2 linked regions of the Homo sapiens genome follow. The protein of the gene in region 1 purifies or fractionates together with the protein of each later gene. This does not show direct contact. Each region holds a gene or a part of one and is shown on either strand. Other genes may lie near its edges.

Region 1 (3,500 bases):
TATATTGTAGCACAATTTAATAATTCTTTTTTTATTACCAAATAATATTCCATTGTATGGATATGCCACACTTTTTTATCCATTCATCAGTGGATAAACATTTGGTTTGTTTCCATTTTTTGGTTATTATGAATAATGCTACTAGCAACATTCATTTACAACTTATGTGCACAGAGGTTTTCAATTCTCTTGAGTATGGAGTATACGCAAGTGAAATTGCCAGTCATAAGGTAACTCTATTTTTAACACTTTGAGAAACTGCCAGACTGTTTCTAAAAGCAGCTGTATCATTTTACATTCCCACCAGCAATGTACAGAGGTCCAATTTCTCTACATCCTCAACAATACTCATTATTTTCTTTTTGATTATAGTGATCCCCGTGGGTGTAAAGAGGTATCTCATTGTGGTTTTATTTCTCTAATTAATGTTACTGACCAGCTTTCATGTCATTATTAGACATCTGTATATCTTCATAGAGAAATGTCTACTCAAATCCTTTGCCCATTTTGTAATTATTTTTTATTAATGTTTCAAGAGTTAAAAAAATTAAATATTCTAGATATAAATTCCTTATCAGATACATAATATGCAAATATTTTCTCTCAGTCTGTGGATTGTCTTTTCCCAATTTTTTTCCTTTTGAGACAAAGTCTCTCTCTGTCACCCAGGCTGGAGTTAAGTGGTTTGATTATGCTGAGACTTGACCTGCTGGACTCAAGTGATCCTCCCACCTCAGCCTCCCTAGTAGCTGGGACTACAGGTGCACACCACCACACCCGGCTAATTTTTGTATTTTTTTGGAGAGATGGGATCTTCTTATGTTGGCCAGGCAGGTCTCAAACTCCTGGGCTCAAGTGATCCTCCCGCCTCAGCCTCTTAAAAGTGTTGGGAGTATAGGCACGAGCCACTGCGCCAGGACTTTTTCCATTCTTTATTTATTTTTTTATTTTTTTTTTGAGACCGAGTCTTACTCTGTTGCCCAGGCTGAAGTGCGGGTGGCGCGATCTTGGCTCACCGCAACCTCTGCCTCCCAGGTTCAAGTGATTCTCCTGCCTCAGCCTCCCAAGTAGCTGGGATTACAGGCGCCCAGCACCACGCCTGGCTAATTTTTGTTTTTTAGTAGAGATGGGGTTTCACCATGTTGGCCAGGCTGGTCTCGAACTCCTGACCTCAGGTGATCTACCCACCTCAGCCTCCCAAAGTGCTGGGATTACAGGTATGAGCCACTGCACCTGGCCTCCATTCTTGTTGGTATTGTCTAAACCACAAAATTTTTAAATTCTGATTAAATACAATTTATCAACTTTCTTTTTACCACTTGTGCTTTTGGTGTCACATCCAAGAAATCACAGTCTAATCCAAAGTCACAACTACTTGTGCCCATGATTTCTTCTAAGAGTTTGACTGCTTTAGTTTACATTTAAGTCTTTAATCCATTTGGTGGTAACATTTTGCATATGGTGCAGGGTTAGGGTTCAACTTCATTCTTATGCATATGGATTCCAGTTGTCCTAACGTCTCCCCTGACTTAACTATCTTGGCATCCTTGCTGAAAAGCAAGTGACTGCATATATTGTAAGGTCTTTCTTCTGGACTCTGTATTTCATTAACTATGGATTTATTCTTATGTTACTATCATGATGTGGCTCTGTAGAAAGTTTTGAAATTGGCAAGTTCAAGTCCTCCAATCTATTTTCTCAAGGTCATTGGCCATTCTATGTCCCCTGAATTTCCATATGAATTTTAGGATAAAAGCTTGTCAATTTCTGCAAAAAAGCCAGCTGGGATTTTGACAGGCACTGCACTAAATCTGTTGGTTAATTTGGTGAGCACTGCCATTTTAATATTAAAATTTTCAGGATCATAGCATGTGTCTTTCCACTTAATTTCAATAATGTTTTATAGTTTTCAGAATATGTTTTGCACCTGGTCCATTTATTTCTAAGTATTTGCTTTTTGATGTTATTGGTAATCAACTGTTTTTTGTAATTTCATTTTTGTAGTGTTCATTGCAACTGTCTAGAAATATATTTGATTTATGTATATTGAACTTGTATTCTGCAACTTGCTGAACTCGATCATTAGTTTTAACAGATTTTTGTGATTTCCCTTGTGATTTTCTATAGATAAGATCATGTCATTTGTAAACAGATAGTTTAACTTCTTTCTCAACTTGAATGCCATTTAACGTACTTGACTAATTGCCCTGGCCAGACAATGCTGAATATAAATGAGAGTAAATATACTTATTTTGTTCCTGATCTTAGGGAGAAGGCATTCAGTCTTTCACCATTAAATTATGTTAGCTTTGGATATTCTGTAGATGGCATTTAACAGGCTGAAGTCCCTTTTATGTCTAGTTTTATTTATTTATTTAGAGATAGGGTCTTACTCTGTTGCCCAGGCTGGAGTGTAGTGGGGTGTTCTCAGCTCACTGCAACCTTTGTCTCCAGGGTTCAAGCGATTCTCGTGCCTCAGCCTCTCAAGCAGCTGGGATTACAGGTAGGCACCACCACGCCTGGCTAATTTTTGTATTTTTAGTAGAAACAGCGTTTTGCTATGTTGGCCAGGCTGGTCTCAAACTCCTGGCCTCAAGTGATCTGCCCACCTCAGCTTCCCAGAGTGCTGGGATTACAGGTGTGAATCACTGCGCCCAGCCTAGTTTGTTTTTATAATCATTAAAGGGGGTGTTGGATGTTGTCAAATGATTTTTGTGAATCTATTGAGATAAGCATGTGGTCTTTGTACTATATTCTTTCCTTGATTGCTTTATTATAAATTGATATGGCACAATACATTAATTTTCAGATGTTAAATCAACCTTGCTTTTCTAATATACCCAAGATATATTTCCTAATATATCTTGGATTCAAAAAGATACTCTTTGAAACTTTTGATGCTTAGTCAAAAAAACCCTGATATTGTAAACTGAGCTTTAAAACACACTTTGCCTGTAATCCCAGCACTTTGGGAGCCTGGCCAACATGGTGAAACCCCGTCTCTATTGAAAACACAAGAATTAGCCAGGCGTGGTGGTGGGCGCCTGTAGTCCCAGCTACTTGGGAGGCTGAGGCAGGAGGATGGCCTGAATTTGGGAGGCTGAGGTTGCAGTGAGCAGAGATCGCGCTACTGCACTCCAGCCTGGAGGACAAAAGCAAAACTCTGGCTCAAAAACAAACAAACAAACAAACAAAAAACCCCACACACTTTGTAACTAGGCATCCCAATACTTTTATTGGGGTGCTTTCAAAAATTAATTCTGCTCTGGTTTTAAAAAATAAGCTTTTGAAGGGAGTTAACTGGTTTCAGAGAGATGCAGGCCAAGCTCCTGGTGTTTGTGAGGAAAAAAGGGTGAATGGAGACCAGAGACTTACTGCCTCCAAAAGTGTATGTCATAGTTCAAGTCAGCATAGCACTTGGCGTTTTTTTTAAAATGGTAAAATAATGCACCAAACTAGTAAAATCTTAATCTTACCTGCACGAGGTATCGTGGATCCAC
Region 2 (3,500 bases), on another chromosome or scaffold:
GGGAGGGATGCAGGCGGGAAGAGCCCAGGTCAGACAGGGTATTGCACGGTGTGTGGGGGAGCCACGGCTTGCCGACCTCAGCCTGAGAGTCTCGCGGGGAGGAGGGGCTAGAAGGCTGCAGCCGCTGGTCCACACACAAGCATTGGGGCCTGGGTGCGGCTGGTCCCAGCATGCCCCCAGCACAGGACGGGCAGCAGGGGCATAAGCCTTGCTCCCAGTGTCCTCTGCCCTCGCCCGGGCAGTGCAGGCTGGGCCATGTATAAATATTCCTGAAGGCCCATGGGCGAGCCTGGCTGTCCCCCGTTCCTCTGGAAGTGACATGTGAGTGTTTCTGGTCCAATAAATAAAGGCGGCGTGAGCACTGTGCCAGCTGCCTCCTGGCCTGGTGGTGAGGCTGGAGGTGGGGCACAGCCTGACCGTGGCTATGGCGCCAGCACTTCCGCCACTGCAGCCCGCACCTAGAATTCATCATCAGAGCTGAGCAGGAGAGTCTTCTCGTTGTCGCGGGCGCCACTGAGGCTGTGGGAGCGGGAGAGGCCGTGGGCGCCACCACGCCAGGTGGGCCCAGGCTCCAGGGTGGACTGCTGCGTGTACTGCTGGTAGGCAGGTGAGAAGTTGTGGATGGCGTCCTGCACGATGTCGTGCGGGTTCATGGTCTCCTTGAGGCTGCTGGAGATGCTCTTCATGGGGGCACAGCGGCCTGCCGGGCAGGGAGCGGGAGGGGCAGGTGAGGAGGCTGGGACGGTGAGAGGGAGGTGGCTCAGCCCCTGCCCGTGATCCTGGGACAGACACCCCCCAACCCAAAGCTATGCCCTTCAACCATCCCTTCTGGGACAGAGAATGGGGTCCAGGATATGAGAAGGGGCAGGAAAAAATGGACTTCTTTGGCTGGGGAGCCCCAAGGGGAGGCTGGACTGTGAAGAGGAGCAGACATAAACCCCCACTGGGAGCTGGGCTGGCTGCAGGGAAGGGACCCAGGGTGGAGACTGGCAAGCTATGGGCAGTGAGCCTAGAATGCCCCAGAGAGGCCAGAGCAGGCTCAGCACTGACTGAAGTTGGGGCATGTGGGGCCAGAGGGCCTGGAAGCCAGGGGTGCCCGGTTCCACAGGTGCCAGGCGCGTCCCCCACCACCGGGGGAAGTGCTGTGCTCCCTCTACTCTGGAGATCAGGACCAGGCTGGCCTGCACCCCCAGGGGAGCAGATGCGACTCACTGGCTCCCTCTAAGAGGGCTTCCTCCTCATCTCTCTAATCAACTGTCCCCATCCTCAGGGGCTCAGAGCAGAAAGGTGGCCCAGGACACCTGGATGTAAGGGACGAGCCCACCCCTGGAACCCAGGATTCCTGACTCAGCTTGTGAACTCTTGGAAACATCGTGAAATGCCCCGATATCCCATGAACAGCACTGTGCCCCCAGAAGAAGGCGGGGCATATTCCAGAACGAGAAACGAGGACGGAAGCAGGCAAGCTCTACAGAGGGTGGCCCTTGACAGGTGCTCTGGGCGCTCCCACCCAGGGGGTGCCGGTGGGGAGGAGATGAGGACACGGAGAAGAGCTACAGAGAGACGCATGCCAGTGACAGTGACCAGAACTGACATGCAGGACAGACATGCAGACCAAGAGCGGGACCTACCGTAAGGGCCGTATGTTGGCACTGCCCGCGGCCAAACCCCGGGCAAAAGCAGGGCAAGGGGGGCGGGGAGAGAAGCCAAAGAAATAGAGAAGACAAGAGACAGCTGAGTGAACAATGTGTGCCCACCACCGAGGCCCACCAGCACGACACACCACACACCCTGTCCCCACCCCCCCAGGCCCCACAGGGCACCCAGGAAGCTCCAGGTGCCTCCTGGGGCCTGGCAGGGGGGATATCCACCTAGGGATGACTCCTCCCCTGGTGTTCACGCCAACAGGAAACATCCGTCTGGCGACTGAGTTCCGCCTCCACGTCTAGGTCAGGACGTCCCATCCCCACTTCTTCCCCGGCTAGCCTGGGGCCACATCCACACCTCACATTTTACAAACCTCACAACACTTCCCAGACCAGGACATGGAGGCTCAGAGGGAGGGGTTACAATCGCACAGCTGAGCCAGCTCTGCACCTAAGCCTATCCTGAGGGCTGAGGGTCTGGGCCTGGGTTAGAGGGTAGCAGGGGGCTCAGGACCAGTGGGGAGGCAGAAGAGGGCAAGCAGCTTCCCCGGCCGGGCGTGGGTATGTCTAGAGGGACAGCTCAGGCCAGGCAGCAGAGCCCCTCTGCTGAGCCCCAGTGGTGCAGGAATGGTTCTCTGCCATGGGCCCCCTTGCTCCTTGGGGTGGCCCCAGGCCCCAGGCCCAAGGATGATGTTCCCACGGGCACAGGGTATACCACACCAGGTCCAAGGGACACTGCCCTCAATGCTGGGTGTGTGTTTGCTAGATCCTTCCAACTGGGCCACCAGGTGGCAACCCCTGGCCTTTGTGCACCTGCTCTTTGGGCACAGAGTAGGTCTTCCCCCACCAGGGAAGGCACAGAGGAAGGGGGGCGGGAAGTGGGCCGCGGAGCCCCGCTGCAGGCAGACATTTCTACAGTCCACACCACCCACCACGGAGCCTGTGTGGGGCCTGCAGGTAGGCCCTGGGGAAGTGGGTTTCTTGCCTCCAGCCACTCGGGCAGACAGCTGGCAGCAGCCAGGCTCCTGGGTGGATGTGTCAGAGAAGGAGGCTCCCCTCTCCCCAGTCCCTCCTGCCCCTTTACTGGCTCAATCAGTCTCAGGCATTCCCAGCCTCCTCTTCCCCATCCTCCAAGGACAACCCCCTTCTGCCCAGTGGCCAGAGGCAGCCCTTCCAGCCCAGTGGAGCGTCCCGGGCAGCAGCACTTTCACATCACCCTGGGAGTGCTTAAAGCACAGAACTCTCACAGCACACCCAGCCTGCCAGCCCGGACCCATTACAGCGGGATCTCCGAGGGTGGGGCTGGGTATCAGCACTTCCAAAAGCTCTCCAGGGCATTTTCCAGTACAACTGGGGCTACTTACCACTGTTCTAGCAAGGAGGAAGATTCGCAGGTGTAAAAGAAAGCTGTTAAAACCTATTACCATCCGAGTCTGTTTCTCAGAAGTATTCTTTTTTTTCTTTCTTTCTTTTTTTTGAGACGGAGTCTTGCTCTGTCACCCAGGCTGGAGTGCAATGGCACAATCTCGCTCACTGCAAGCTCCGCCTCCTGGATTCACACCATTCTCCTGCCTCAGCCTCCCGAGTAGCTCGGACTACAAGCACCCGCCACCACGCCCGGCTAATTTTTTGTATTTTTAGTAGAGACAGGGTTTCACCGTGTTAGCCAGGATGGTCTCGATCTCCTGACCTTGTGATCCACCCGCCTCGGCCTCCCAAAGTGCTGGGATTATAGGCGTGAGCCACCGTGCCCGGCCAGAAGTATCCTTTTTTTAAAAAATAGCATATGAGATGAGGGAATTACAGGACAAAATGGTAACCACAGTGTTGGGAGTTAGAAGCCCGAGGGAATTT

Evidence for each region. Proteins that work in one complex are often made in the same cells at the same time.
Region 2: the proteins of TIMM23 (region 1) and TMEM184B purify together in Homo sapiens (affinity purification with mass spectrometry; one large-scale study listed by BioGRID and IntAct). This does not show direct contact.

The regions. Positions count from the first base shown.
Region 1 is NC_000010.11:45,975,489-45,978,988, reverse strand, and holds part of TIMM23 (mitochondrial import inner membrane translocase subunit Tim23), read right to left. Parts: coding exon 3,477-3,500; intron 1-3,476. UniProt on the Homo sapiens protein: Essential component of the TIM23 complex, a complex that mediates the translocation of transit peptide-containing proteins across the mitochondrial inner membrane.
Region 2 is NC_000022.11:38,221,011-38,224,510, forward strand, and holds part of TMEM184B (transmembrane protein 184B), read right to left. Parts: exon of another isoform or gene 3,469-3,500; intron 1,653-3,468; coding exon of another isoform or gene 1,632-1,652; intron 737-1,631; coding exon of another isoform or gene 701-736; coding exon 459-700; 3' UTR 1-458. UniProt on the Homo sapiens protein: May activate the MAP kinase signaling pathway.